4 linked regions of the Homo sapiens genome follow. The protein of the gene in region 4 interacts with the protein of the main gene of each other region in a pairwise test. Each region holds a gene or a part of one and is shown on either strand. Other genes may lie near its edges.

What was found.
Region 1: the proteins of ZKSCAN3 (region 4) and LZTS2 interact in binary tests that used the Homo sapiens proteins (3 or more experiments, as listed by UniProt).
Region 2: the proteins of ZKSCAN3 (region 4) and EIF2S3 interact in binary tests that used the Homo sapiens proteins (3 or more experiments, as listed by UniProt).
Region 3: the proteins of ZKSCAN3 (region 4) and HTT interact in binary tests that used the Homo sapiens proteins (3 or more experiments, as listed by UniProt).

Annotation. Positions count from the first base shown.
Region 1 is NC_000010.11:101,002,808-101,005,609, forward strand, and holds part of LZTS2 (leucine zipper putative tumor suppressor 2), read left to right. Parts: coding exon 1-139; intron 140-699; coding exon 700-1,359; coding exon of another isoform or gene 1,360-1,461; exon of another isoform or gene 1,462-1,669; intron 1,670-2,650; coding exon 2,651-2,802. UniProt on the Homo sapiens protein: Negative regulator of katanin-mediated microtubule severing and release from the centrosome. Required for central spindle formation and the completion of cytokinesis.
Region 2 is NC_000023.11:24,068,456-24,071,994, forward strand, and holds part of EIF2S3 (eukaryotic translation initiation factor 2 subunit 3), read left to right. Parts: intron 1-3,102; coding exon 3,103-3,272; intron 3,273-3,539. UniProt on the Homo sapiens protein: Member of the eIF2 complex that functions in the early steps of protein synthesis by forming a ternary complex with GTP and initiator tRNA.
Region 3 is NC_000004.12:3,238,681-3,241,607, forward strand, and holds part of HTT (huntingtin), read left to right. Parts: intron 1-137; coding exon 138-298; intron 299-1,165; coding exon 1,166-1,379; 3' UTR 1,380-2,927.
Region 4 is NC_000006.12:28,352,917-28,356,455, forward strand, and holds part of ZKSCAN3 (zinc finger protein with KRAB and SCAN domains 3), read left to right. Parts: intron 1-441; exon of another isoform or gene 442-566; intron 567-945; coding exon of another isoform or gene 946-978; exon of another isoform or gene 979-1,036; intron 1,037-1,214; exon of another isoform or gene 1,215-1,288; intron 1,289-2,406; exon of another isoform or gene 2,407-2,758; intron 2,759-3,129; exon of another isoform or gene 3,130-3,355; intron 3,356-3,539. UniProt on the Homo sapiens protein: Transcriptional factor that binds to the consensus sequence 5'-[GT][AG][AGT]GGGG-3' and acts as a repressor of autophagy. Specifically represses expression of genes involved in autophagy and lysosome biogenesis/function such as MAP1LC3B, ULK1 or WIPI2.

The DNA.
Region 1 (2,802 bases), on a different chromosome or scaffold from region 4:
CATCAATGAGGACTTCCGGACAGAGTCACCCCCCAGCCCAAGCAGTGATGTTGAGGATGCCCGAGAGCAGCGGGCACACAATGCCCACCTCCGCGGCCCACCACCAAAGCTCATCCCTGTCTCTGGAAAGCTGGAGAAGGTGAGGACCGGCTCTTCCTTGTGGGCCTGGGTAGAACGGGAGTCCTCGCTTGGGAAACTGGAATTTAGAAGCTTATATAGAGGAAAGAGTGTGGGCTCCAGATTCACCAGACCTGGGTCCTAATCCCAGCTCTCTCTCATTCTGGATGTGTGACCTCAGGGAAGTCACTTAACCTGAGCCTCAGTTTCTAGAACTGACATGAAGGTCAAATAATGTATAGCATAGTGCCTAGCACGTAGCATGTACGCAGTAAGTGCTAGTTGCTTACGTTCTGGTTATTCTGCACCAGTTATACGTTTGACTTTGGGCAAGGCCTTTAACCTTGCTGAGCCTCCATTTCCTCATCTGTAATATGGGGATAGTGATCATATTTAGATAATGGAGATAAACTTTTCAAATTGCTTGACACAAAGCTGACACTGGTGGCCACCTCCACCAGTGGCCGCAATTGTTATGAATATATGGGCACTGGGGACCCAAGACGGGAGGGCAGGGAGTGTCATAAGGGCTCTGCAAGATTGGGCAGCTCATCTCCAGTGTCACATGGCACCTCATTTCAGAACATGGAGAAGATCCTGATCCGCCCAACAGCCTTCAAGCCAGTGCTGCCCAAACCTCGAGGGGCTCCGTCCCTGCCTAGCTTCATGGGTCCTCGGGCCACCGGGCTGTCTGGGAGCCAGGGCAGCCTGACGCAGCTGTTTGGGGGCCCTGCCTCCTCCTCCTCCTCTTCCTCCTCCTCTTCAGCTGCTGACAAACCCCTGGCATTTAGTGGCTGGGCCAGTGGCTGCCCATCAGGGACGCTATCCGACTCTGGCCGAAACTCACTGTCCAGCCTGCCCACCTACAGCACCGGAGGTGCCGAGCCAACCACCAGCTCCCCAGGCGGGCACCTGCCTTCCCATGGCTCTGGGCGAGGGGCACTGCCTGGGCCAGCCCGAGGGGTCCCTACTGGGCCCTCCCACTCAGACAGTGGCCGGTCCTCCTCCAGCAAGAGCACAGGCTCCCTAGGGGGCCGTGTGGCTGGGGGGCTTTTGGGCAGTGGTACTCGGGCCTCCCCTGACAGCAGCTCCTGTGGGGAGCGCTCACCACCACCCCCGCCTCCACCTCCTTCGGATGAGGCCCTGCTGCACTGTGTCCTGGAAGGAAAGCTCCGAGACCGGGAGGCAGAGCTTCAGCAGCTGCGGGACAGTCTGGACGAGAATGAGGCTACCATGTGCCAGGTGTGGTCAGAGGCAATGATGGGGAAGGGGCATGGCAGGACATCCCAAGGCCCTGGGATGCAAGCGGCATTTCCATTTTGGCAGGGAACGGGGGTTGGGTAGTTGTAGTTGTGACCCCCCTGCCCTCCCCACCAGTTGTCTGGTTTAATGTGTGGAGTAGCCAGGTGTGGTGGCTCACATCTGTAATCCCAGCACTTTGGGAGGCCGAGGTGGGCGGATTGCTTGAGCTCGGGAGTTTGAGACCAACCTGGGTAACATGGGGAAACCCCATTTCTACTAAAAATAAATTAGCTAAGTGTGGTGGCATGTACCTGTAGTCCCAGCTACTTGGGAGGCTGAGGTGGGCGGATCACTGGAGCCCAGGAGGAGGAGGTTACAATGGACTGACATTCCACCATTGCACTCCAGCCTGGGCGACAGAGCAAGACTCTATCTCAAAACAAAAAACAAAACTTGTGGGGTGGAAAGGAGTCAGAGTGCATGGATTCAAACCTCCCACTGCCAAATACTAGTTTTTGGGCTTGAGCAAGTTGCTTAACTTTACTCAGCCTTTATTTCTTCATCTATATAGGGATATTTCTAGCTTCGTAGGATTATTATGAGGATTAAATAAGGCAAAAGGTGTAAAGTGATTAGACTAATGCCTGGTACCTAGGAAGTGCTATATAAATGCTTGCCTTTTTTAAAATTTTTTATTATTTTTTATTTTTAGTAGAGACAGGGTTTCCACCATGTTGGCCAAGCTGGTCGCGAACCCCTGGCCTCAAGTGATTCACCTGCCTCGGCCTCCCAAAGTGCTGGGATTACAGGCGTGAGCCACTGCACCCGGCCAAGTGCTTGCTTTTTTTATTTTTTGAGACAAGGTCTCATTCTGTCACCCAGGCTAGAGAGCAGTGGCGTGATTTCAGCTCCCTGTAGCCTCAACCCCCTGGGCTCAAGCAGTCCTCTCACCCCAGCCTCCCAAGTAGCTGAGACTACAGGCGCATGCCACCACACCAAGCTAATTTTTGGTCTTTGGAGAGGCAGGGTTTTGCTGTGTTGCCTAGGCTGGTCTCGAACTCCGGAGCTTAAGTGATCCACCCACCTCGCGTGAGCCACCGAGCCCGGTCTGCTTGCTCTTGTGTTTGTTTCTATGATCATCATAAAAGCAGTTAGTATTGTTGTTGCAATTACTATTGTTGTTTAATGGAATCCACCCTTCCTGAGCCCTCGGAAGTGGGCTGCCAGAGCAGACACTGAGTGGGGAGTTGGGAAAACTGCCCAGGAGCCAGGTCTCTCTTCTCGCCTGCAGGCATACGAGGAGCGGCAGCGGCACTGGCAGCGAGAGCGTGAGGCCCTGCGAGAGGACTGTGCGGCCCAGGCACAGCGGGCACAGCGGGCCCAACAGCTGCTGCAGCTGCAGGTGTTCCAGCTGCAGCAGGAGAAGCGGCAATTGCAGGACGA
Region 2 (3,539 bases), on a different chromosome or scaffold from region 4:
TTTTTGGGAGATGGAGTCTCGCTGTGTCCTCCAGGCTGGAGTGCAGTGGTGCAATCTTGGCTCACTGCAGCCTCTGCCTCCCAGGTTCAAGCAATTCTTATGCCTCAGCCTCCCGAGTAGCTGGGACTACAGGCACATGCTGCCAGGCCCAGCTAAGATTTTTGTATTTTAGTAGAGACGGGGTTTCACCGTGTTGCCCAGGCTGGTCTTGAACTCCTGAGCTCAGGCAGTCCCCCTGCCTCGGCCTTTCAAAGTGCTAGGATTACAGGCGTGAACCACCATGCCCGGCCATGGTTGCTTTTATGTATATTTTGCAAATGGAAAATTACCTACAAATGTCAGTTGAATGATATCAGGTCGTATTTCCAATGAGGTAGAAATAAAAGAAAGTAAATTTCTTTGTGTAGCAATTACTGAAGTGATTTAAAAACTTTTCTAGTCCCTTACAACTTAGTGTATTACTCAATACCCAGAAAAATGAAAGATTCAGTGAGAATTAGAAGGGGTGTTGTACCTTTAGATTAAAGAAGAAAATGTTTGGTAAAGAAACAGTTAATTCTTCACCCAATAAGTTGTGTCTCTGGTTGAAAATTTTAAAAAGGAAATAAAAGAAAACAAAAAAATGAAAAAGAGTTTACCAGGTTGGCTGGGCGCAGTGTCTCATGCCTGTGATCCCAGCAATTTGGGAGGCTGAGGTGGGTGGATCGCTTGAGCTCAGGAGTTTGAGACCAGCCTGGGCAACATGGTAAAACCTTGTCTCTACTAAAAATACAAAAGTTAGCTGGGTGTGGTGGCCCACGCCTGTAATCCCGGCTACTCGGGAGGCTGAGGCATGAGAATCGCTTGAACCCAGAAGGCGGAGGGTGAGCCGAGATCACACCAGTGCACTCCAGCCTGGGTGACAGAGTGACACTCTGTCTCAAAAAAAAAAAAAAAACAAGAAGAAAAGAAAAGAAAAAATGAATTTACCAGGTTGGGTATGGTGGCTCATGCTCATAATTCCAGTGCTTTGGGAAGCTGAGGTGGGAAGATTGCTTGAGACCAGGAGTTTGAGACCAGCCTAGGAAACCATGAGATGCCATTTCTCCAATAAAATAGTAAGATTAGCTGGGTTTGGTGGTGTGTGCCTGTAGTTCCATCTATCATTTTATCTTTTGTGTGCATGTGTGTGGTAAACAAGGGAAATCTGGAAACTTTTTAAAAATTTAACTTAAGGAACTTTTTTAATTTCTTTTTTTTTTTTTTTTTTTTTTGAGGCAGAGTCTCATTCTGCCACCCAGGCTGGAGTGCAGTAGTATTATCTCGGCTCGCTGCAACCTTTGCCTCCTGGGTTCAGTTAATTCTCCTGCCTCAGCCTCCCGAGTAGCTGGAACTATAGGCACATACCACCACAGCCAGCTAATTTTTGTATTTTTAGTAGAGATGGGGTTTCGCCATGTTGGCCAGGCTGGTCTCGAACTTCTGGTCTTAAGTGATCTGCCCTCCTTGGCCTCCCAAAATACTGGGATTACAGGCGTGAGCCACCACACTTGGCCTAAGGAACTCTTTAAACATAGGATAGAATACTGTAATGATAACCCCCATAGAGCCATCACTCAGCTTCAGCAATTATTAATGTTTTACCAGTCTTGGCTGGGCGTGGTGGCTCATGTCTGTATTCCCAGCACTTCGGGAGGCCGAGGTGGACGGATCACCTGAGGTCAGGAGTTCGAAAAACCCTGTCTCTACTAAAAATACAAAAAAAAAAAAAAATTTAGTCAGGTGTGGTGGCACATGCCTGTAATCCCAGCCTGTAATCCCAGGTCACAGTGAGCCGAGATCACACCACTGCACTCCAGCCTGGGCGACAGAGACTGTGTCTCAACAACAGCAGCAAAAAAAAGTTTTCCCAATCAATCTTGCTCCATCTATATATCTTCTTTCCCCTACTCCCCTCAAGACACAGCTAGAATATTTTGAAGTAGATCCCAGGAATCATATGTAGTTTTTTTTTTTTTTTTTTTTTTTGAGAGTCTCACTCTGTCGCCCAGGCTGGAGTGCAGTGGCACGATCTCGGCTCACTGCAACCTCTGCCTCCCAGGTTCAAGTGATTCTCCTGCGTTAGCCTCTCGAGTAGCTGGGATTATAGGTGTCTGCCACCATGCCCAGCTATTGTATTTTTAGTAGAGATTGGGTTTTGCCATGTTGGCTAGACTTGTCTTGAACTCCTGACCTTAGGTAATCCTCCAACTTGGGCCTCCCCAAGTGCTGGGATTATAAGTGTGAGCCACTGCGCCTGGCCCATATGTAGTCTTTAACTATCTTTTCAATCAGTCTTTCAGGGGAGAAATGGCATGCAGGTATTCTGCAAACTACTCATTTTGAATTTTGTATTCTTTCGGTCTTTGTTAAGGATATTCGGACTCATTTTGAGTTCACTTATTATCTCTATTTGCCCTTTGTTTAGAATTTATTGTTTTCAAGACCAGGTCAGTAATACTTACCATCTCCTGCATTAAGTTCTCAGCCAAGCCATCATTCCTAGAAAATCAGATTTCTAAACCCTTTGTTTAGAATTTAAATCAAGAGAATCGTTCTGTTCTCATTTGCCCAGTCATCTCATGAGTGTATATTTCTATTTGTCTAGATAAAACAGGTATTTTCTTGTACCTATATAGCTATTATATGAGTATAAAAATAAAAGTATGAAAGTGTGTAGGTATATGCTGTGCTTATATGGCTTTGGGGTATCTAATTCACTTTTTTTTTTTTTGGAGACAGAGTCTCACTCTGTCACCCAGGTTGGAGTGCAGTGGTGCGATCTCGGCTCACTACAACCTCTGCCTCCTGGGTTCAAGTGATTCTCCTGCCTCAGCCTCCCAAGTAGCTGAGACTACAGGTGCACGCCGCCACGCCTGGCTAATTTTTTGTATTTTAATAGAGACAGGGTTTCACCGTGTTGCCCAGGCTGGTCTTTAACTCCTGAGCTCAGGCATCCACCTGCCTCGGCCTCCCAAAGTGCTGGGATTACAGGTGTGAGCCACTGCACCTGGCCAACTAATTCACTTTATAGGTGTTTTAGGAAATAAAAAATTGAGCTATATACATCTTATTTTTATATAGGAGTTGGAACAAAAATTGACCCCACTTTGTGCCGGGCTGACAGAATGGTGGGGCAAGTACTTGGTGCAGTCGGAGCTTTACCTGAGATATTCACAGAATTGGAAATTTCCTATTTCCTGCTTAGACGGCTTCTAGGTGTACGCACTGAAGGAGACAAGAAAGCAGCAAAGGTAAATGCTTTTTTAAAAATTCCTGTTTCTAAAAAAGTGACAAATGGGAGTGTTAAACCAGTGTTGAGTTTTATTGTTTTACAGTTAACATGAAATTAAGAAAAAAAGAAAAGGTAAATAAATTTGACCTCCCCAAAATTGAGGGTTTTTTTTTTTTTAATTTAGAGATGGAGTCTCTCGCTCTGTTGCCCAGGCTGGAGTGCAGTGGCGCGATCTCGGCTCACGGCAACCTCCACCTCCTGGGTTCAAGCAATTCTCTTGCCTCGG
Region 3 (2,927 bases), on a different chromosome or scaffold from region 4:
ATTCGCCAGCAGAGCCCAGCTCCTCCGCTTTAAAGCAGCAATGCCTCTGGCCCCCACCCCACCCCCGCCACCCAGGCGCAGCAGGTGCTTCCCGTCCCCCCAGCCCTGACACTCAGGCACCTGCTTGCTCCTTGCAGGTGTTTCAGACTCTGCACAGCACCGGGCAGTCGTCCATGGTCCGGGACTGGGTCATGCTGTCCCTCTCCAACTTCACGCAGAGGGCCCCGGTCGCCATGGCCACGTGGAGCCTCTCCTGCTTCTTTGTCAGCGCGTCCACCAGCCCGTGGGTCGCGGCGATGTATCCTCTCTGGGTCCCTGGTGCTGGCCCCGTTTCCCTTGTCAACACCGAGGCTCATGTTTCATGATAAGGTTTTGAAACCTAACCTTTGCAAAAACCCCACAGATGCCAGGGTGACAGGCCCTCAGCCCCAGGGAAGTAAAATGCTGACAGGGGTACAGAAAGGAGCACGTCCAGACATTTGCTGACCAGGGCCTCTCAGAGGGGCCGGTGTATGGCAGGAGGGTCGCAGCTGAGGGGCCTTTCTGTGGAGGGCCTGGGTGAGGGGAGCGAGGGTGGGCGGTGGTCTCTGCAGACGTCCCGCCCACTCGCGGGCTCTGTGTGGCTGGGCTTCTCCTGACACTGCTTCTCATTAGCTTTGGTCATTGTGCCTCGATCGCCCTCTCGGGGAAAGGCTTAAGTAAAGATCCAGTTCCCACCCCCAGATGCTGGCTGCCAGGAGTTTCCCTTTCCACAGCCCTTCCCCAAGACAGACCACAAGAGCCTCCAAGCAGCACAGTTGTCCTGGTGCTGACAGCACAGCCTTGCCCGGCGTGCCTGGCACGGCTCTGCCCTCACTGCATTGGAGCAGGGCTAGTGGAGGCCAGCGGAAGCACCGGCCACCAGCGCTGCACAGGAGCCAGGCCAGGTGAGTGCTGCCGAGTGGGTGCCCTGCCTGCAGGGCATCCAGCCAGCCAAGGGTTGCAGGAATGGAGGTGGAGGCGCTGATGCAGCTGGAGGCATCCAGGTGGCCCTTCCGGGGCTCTGCTCGCTCTCCAGGCTCCCTGGACCCCTTTGTAGACTGTTTCAGGAGAGGAACTCCCAGGTGAGGACAGGGAGGCAGCATTCCCCTCATTTGCCGGCCTTTTTCCTTAACTCCTGCACCAGCCTCCCACATGTCATCAGCAGGATGGGCAAGCTGGAGCAGGTGGACGTGAACCTTTTCTGCCTGGTCGCCACAGACTTCTACAGACACCAGATAGAGGAGGAGCTCGACCGCAGGGCCTTCCAGTCTGTGCTTGAGGTGGTTGCAGCCCCAGGAAGCCCATATCACCGGCTGCTGACTTGTTTACGAAATGTCCACAAGGTCACCACCTGCTGAGCGCCATGGTGGGAGAGACTGTGAGGCGGCAGCTGGGGCCGGAGCCTTTGGAAGTCTGCGCCCTTGTGCCCTGCCTCCACCGAGCCAGCTTGGTCCCTATGGGCTTCCGCACATGCCGCGGGCGGCCAGGCAACGTGCGTGTCTCTGCCATGTGGCAGAAGTGCTCTTTGTGGCAGTGGCCAGGCAGGGAGTGTCTGCAGTCCTGGTGGGGCTGAGCCTGAGGCCTTCCAGAAAGCAGGAGCAGCTGTGCTGCACCCCATGTGGGTGACCAGGTCCTTTCTCCTGATAGTCACCTGCTGGTTGTTGCCAGGTTGCAGCTGCTCTTGCATCTGGGCCAGAAGTCCTCCCTCCTGCAGGCTGGCTGTTGGCCCCTCTGCTGTCCTGCAGTAGAAGGTGCCGTGAGCAGGCTTTGGGAACACTGGCCTGGGTCTCCCTGGTGGGGTGTGCATGCCACGCCCCGTGTCTGGATGCACAGATGCCATGGCCTGTGCTGGGCCAGTGGCTGGGGGTGCTAGACACCCGGCACCATTCTCCCTTCTCTCTTTTCTTCTCAGGATTTAAAATTTAATTATATCAGTAAAGAGATTAATTTTAACGTAACTCTTTCTATGCCCGTGTAAAGTATGTGAATCGCAAGGCCTGTGCTGCATGCGACAGCGTCCGGGGTGGTGGACAGGGCCCCCGGCCACGCTCCCTCTCCTGTAGCCACTGGCATAGCCCTCCTGAGCACCCGCTGACATTTCCGTTGTACATGTTCCTGTTTATGCATTCACAAGGTGACTGGGATGTAGAGAGGCGTTAGTGGGCAGGTGGCCACAGCAGGACTGAGGACAGGCCCCCATTATCCTAGGGGTGCGCTCACCTGCAGCCCCTCCTCCTCGGGCACAGACGACTGTCGTTCTCCACCCACCAGTCAGGGACAGCAGCCTCCCTGTCACTCAGCTGAGAAGGCCAGCCCTCCCTGGCTGTGAGCAGCCTCCACTGTGTCCAGAGACATGGGCCTCCCACTCCTGTTCCTTGCTAGCCCTGGGGTGGCGTCTGCCTAGGAGCTGGCTGGCAGGTGTTGGGACCTGCTGCTCCATGGATGCATGCCCTAAGAGTGTCACTGAGCTGTGTTTTGTCTGAGCCTCTCTCGGTCAACAGCAAAGCTTGGTGTCTTGGCACTGTTAGTGACAGAGCCCAGCATCCCTTCTGCCCCCGTTCCAGCTGACATCTTGCACGGTGACCCCTTTTAGTCAGGAGAGTGCAGATCTGTGCTCATCGGAGACTGCCCCACGGCCCTGTCAGAGCCGCCACTCCTATCCCCAGGCCAGGTCCCTGGACCAGCCTCCTGTTTGCAGGCCCAGAGGAGCCAAGTCATTAAAATGGAAGTGGATTCTGGATGGCCGGGCTGCTGCTGATGTAGGAGCTGGATTTGGGAGCTCTGCTTGCCGACTGGCTGTGAGACGAGGCAGGGGCTCTGCTTCCTCAGCCCTAGAGGCGAGCCAGGCAAGGTTGGCGACTGTCATGTGGCTTGGTTTGGTCATGCCCGTCGATGTTTTGGGTATT
Region 4 (3,539 bases):
TCCCTTTGTAACCTCTACCAGCCTTACATTTCTTTTCTTTTCTTTTTCTTTTTTTTTTTTTTTTTGAGGCAGAGTCTTGCTCTGTTGCCAGGCTGGAGTGCAGGTGCAGTGGTGCGATCTTGGCTCATTGCAACCTCCGCCTTCCGGGTTCAAGCGATTCTCCTGCCTCAGCCTCCCAAGTAGCTGAGACTATAGGCGCATGCCATCACGCCCAGCTAATTTTTGTATTTTTAGTAGAGACGGGGTTTCACCATGTTGGCCAGGATGGTCTCGATCTCTTGACCTCATGATGTGCCCACCTCAGCCTCCCAAAGTGTTGGGATTACAGGCGTGAGCCACTGCGCCCAGCCCAGCCTTACATTTTCTAGCCTCTCCATTCCACTGAGTAAAGAGGGACTTACTGACATCCGAGTCCAGTCAAATAATTTTGCAGTCACTCACTTCTAGTTTAAAATCTAGTCCCAGCTGGTTCACAGGAATCTCAGGTTTCCCTTCCCTCTTAGATCAGGCCCAGGTCTCATGGCTTCTGGGATAGGCTCTCTTTCAGAATATCTTACTTTTCCCTCCTAAAATACAGAAATCATCCATTACAAAGTGATGACTCTGACGAAACCTGATGGCTGGTGCTGTTGTTTCTAGATAATACCATACTGAGGAAGGAGTAGATTAGGAAGCAAGAAAATCACTTTGATTTGGGGCATATTGAATTGGATTTGTTTGCAAGATTTCCATATAGGACCGTCTGGGAGGCAGCTCAGGATAGGGATCAGGAGTCTACAGCCTAGAAATAGAAGTTAAAACCTTGCGAGTGATTAAAGATAGTTCTGGGGAAGACTGTGGATAGAGAAAAGAAAAGGTCAAGAACAGAACCACCAGGCCTACTCTTATTTAAAAAAAGAAAGACCAGTGAATTATACTATTAGCCAACATGTATATGGTACTTACCACTGTCATGCCAAGTGTCAGGTTCCAGCCCATACTGAGGTCCGAGGGGAGTTGTTGGATGGGTGGCAGGTAGTTGAAAGAACACTCGGGGCTGTAGGCAGGTAAAATATGATTTTATTCAGCAGCAGCTGCTGCAGCTCTCACACTGTCTGCCTCTGTCTCGGCTGCCTCCTCCGACCGCAGCCCTTCTCAGCAAACGGCTCTGTGGCTCCTGCCGCTCCCACACTTACAGCTGTACTCCTTGGCATGCTTGTTAATTCCTGGCTCACCTCTGTCTGTCTGCAAGATGGCCAGTTCTCTCTTACAGGGTCAGCAGTTTTTCTCTCTCTCTCTGGGCACAAGTCCTATGTACAGTGTCAGCAGGGCAATTATACCATTTACAGACAATAGTGGCTGTAAGCCAAGTATGAGCTTACACAAACAGGTTATATAACAAGTGGAGTGGTGCGCCTGCGTTCCAAACTCGCTGAGTCACGCTGGCCTGCATATCTGCCTCGGCCTATTCTTGACCAAAGCACATCCATTTACCTTACACTCCACCCCCTTGGCCGAGGGAGACATAGGTTTTTGGGTACACAGGCCCAATATATAGGTTTGGCACACAGGCCTGACATATAAACTTTGGGCACCCAGGGCTGATACACACAGGCTTGACACATAAGTCTGACACATAGGCTCTGGGCACACAGGCCCAATGTATACATAGAGGCTTGACACATAAGCCTGACACATAAGCTCTGGGCACTTGGGCCACAGTAATACAGGGAGCAATAATTTCAGGTTATAGTGAGCAATCACTACATGGTGATGTTACCCCAATGTTGCTTTATATATTAATCCAGGGTTTTTGCTTCCCTACCTTTAGGGTGTTGGGGCGGGCAACAACAGGTTACTGTTTGTCCCCATACCTGGTTGGAGGAAGTCATCCTTTCTCTCATAGATCTGGCCACATGGCCTGGCCCTACATGGGTCGGTGACTAGCCACTTCTGTAACTTCTAGGTAGTTAGCCACAAGGTTAAGCCTTGATAAACTGCCCAGCTATCAGTGCAGATTACGTGTCACCTTCTTGGTGATCACCATTTACATTGCCCTGAGTTCAGTTTATTAGCTACTTTGTCCACACCTGGTATCAAACCATAGGGTGTTGGTACTAGGCTGGGCTGCAACAGCAGTCCAGGTAGCAGTAGCACCCTGGCTAGACCTATCTGTGTACCATGCCCCATTGGGAATGCGGGAATGCCCTTCCTTAAAAGGTGAAGGCTCAGGATCTAGGGGTGCCTCAGGTCCCATAACCTTATCTTGCATTAGGACTGTAGGTCCTAAGACTTCCTGTAATTGTGCTTCTAAGGGACTTGAGTTAGCATACTTTGCTGTTCCAAGTAGGCTTAAGCACCCCACTTTACAAAAGTGGATGTCTGTGCCATCCCAGTGTGTGGGTTGTTACCCATGAGCATACCCACCCTGCTATTGGGTAAGTCATGCGCGCGACGACTGTAGCCCATCCTGCCAGGCTGTCACGAGTCTAAAGGGCAGCATATGCAGTTAGTAACTGCTTCTCTGTCGAGGAATACTGGAGCTCAGCTCCCTTCCAAAGTTGGGACCAAAAGTCTACTGGCATTCTAAAGAGCTCTGTGTGATGCCATAAGCCCCAGTCAAAACTATCTGGTCACATGCACATCAAGTTTAAATGGGTGCCCCGATCAGCTACCCATAGGGCTTGTGCCTGCTGAATAGCCTGTTTGGCTGCCAGGAAGGTGGTTTCAGCCGCATCATCCCAATTCCAGGCAAGAGGCTGCGTTGCTGCTTCTAAATCTGCAAGAGAATCAGAGGTTAATATAACATCATTAATAAGATCATGACATATGTTGGGGCTATGCATATATCCCTGCAGCAATACTGTGAAAGTCCATTGTCACCCTCCCACGAAGGCAAAGTGTTCCTGGCTCTCTGGAGCAATGTCGATTAAGAGGAATGCATTGGCCAAGTCCACCACACAGTGGCACCATCCCAGTTCTGTTGTCAAGTGGCCTATCAAATCCATGATAGACGGCACAGCTGCCAAGCCGTGCAAAACATCCACCCACAGCCTGTCCTCAGGCATGGGAGAGACATCCACAGTGCATAAGCAGGGAGCTAAGCGGCCGATGCCGAGGTCCAAAGATACAGGTTTCACTTTCACTGACCAGCTTTCATAACCGTCAATAAATGCAGCTCTGCCCGGAAACTTATTCAGGTTTAGGGACCAGTGGCTTGCCGAGTCCACATATTGCCTTTGGTTGTCCGGTGTCCCCCCAAGCCTGGCACCTGGGTCAGTTCCCAATCAAACAGGAAAGACTTTACATTTCTGCCTGACTGCAGCAGGTAATCTTTGAGCTGGAACGCTCCGGCGGGACCTAGTTGCCCAGCAATGTCCTTTTCCCGAATGACTTGCACTAAGTCTATATACAACTGCCATCTACTGACAGTTTCTGGTATTTCACCGGCATCAGACCACACTGTAATTAAAGAAGCCAGCTTTTCCATCTCAGAGGGGGAGCAGGAAATGGATCAGCTCCTTTGTCCCGGAGAGACAGAATTCAGGCAGGGAGTCTCC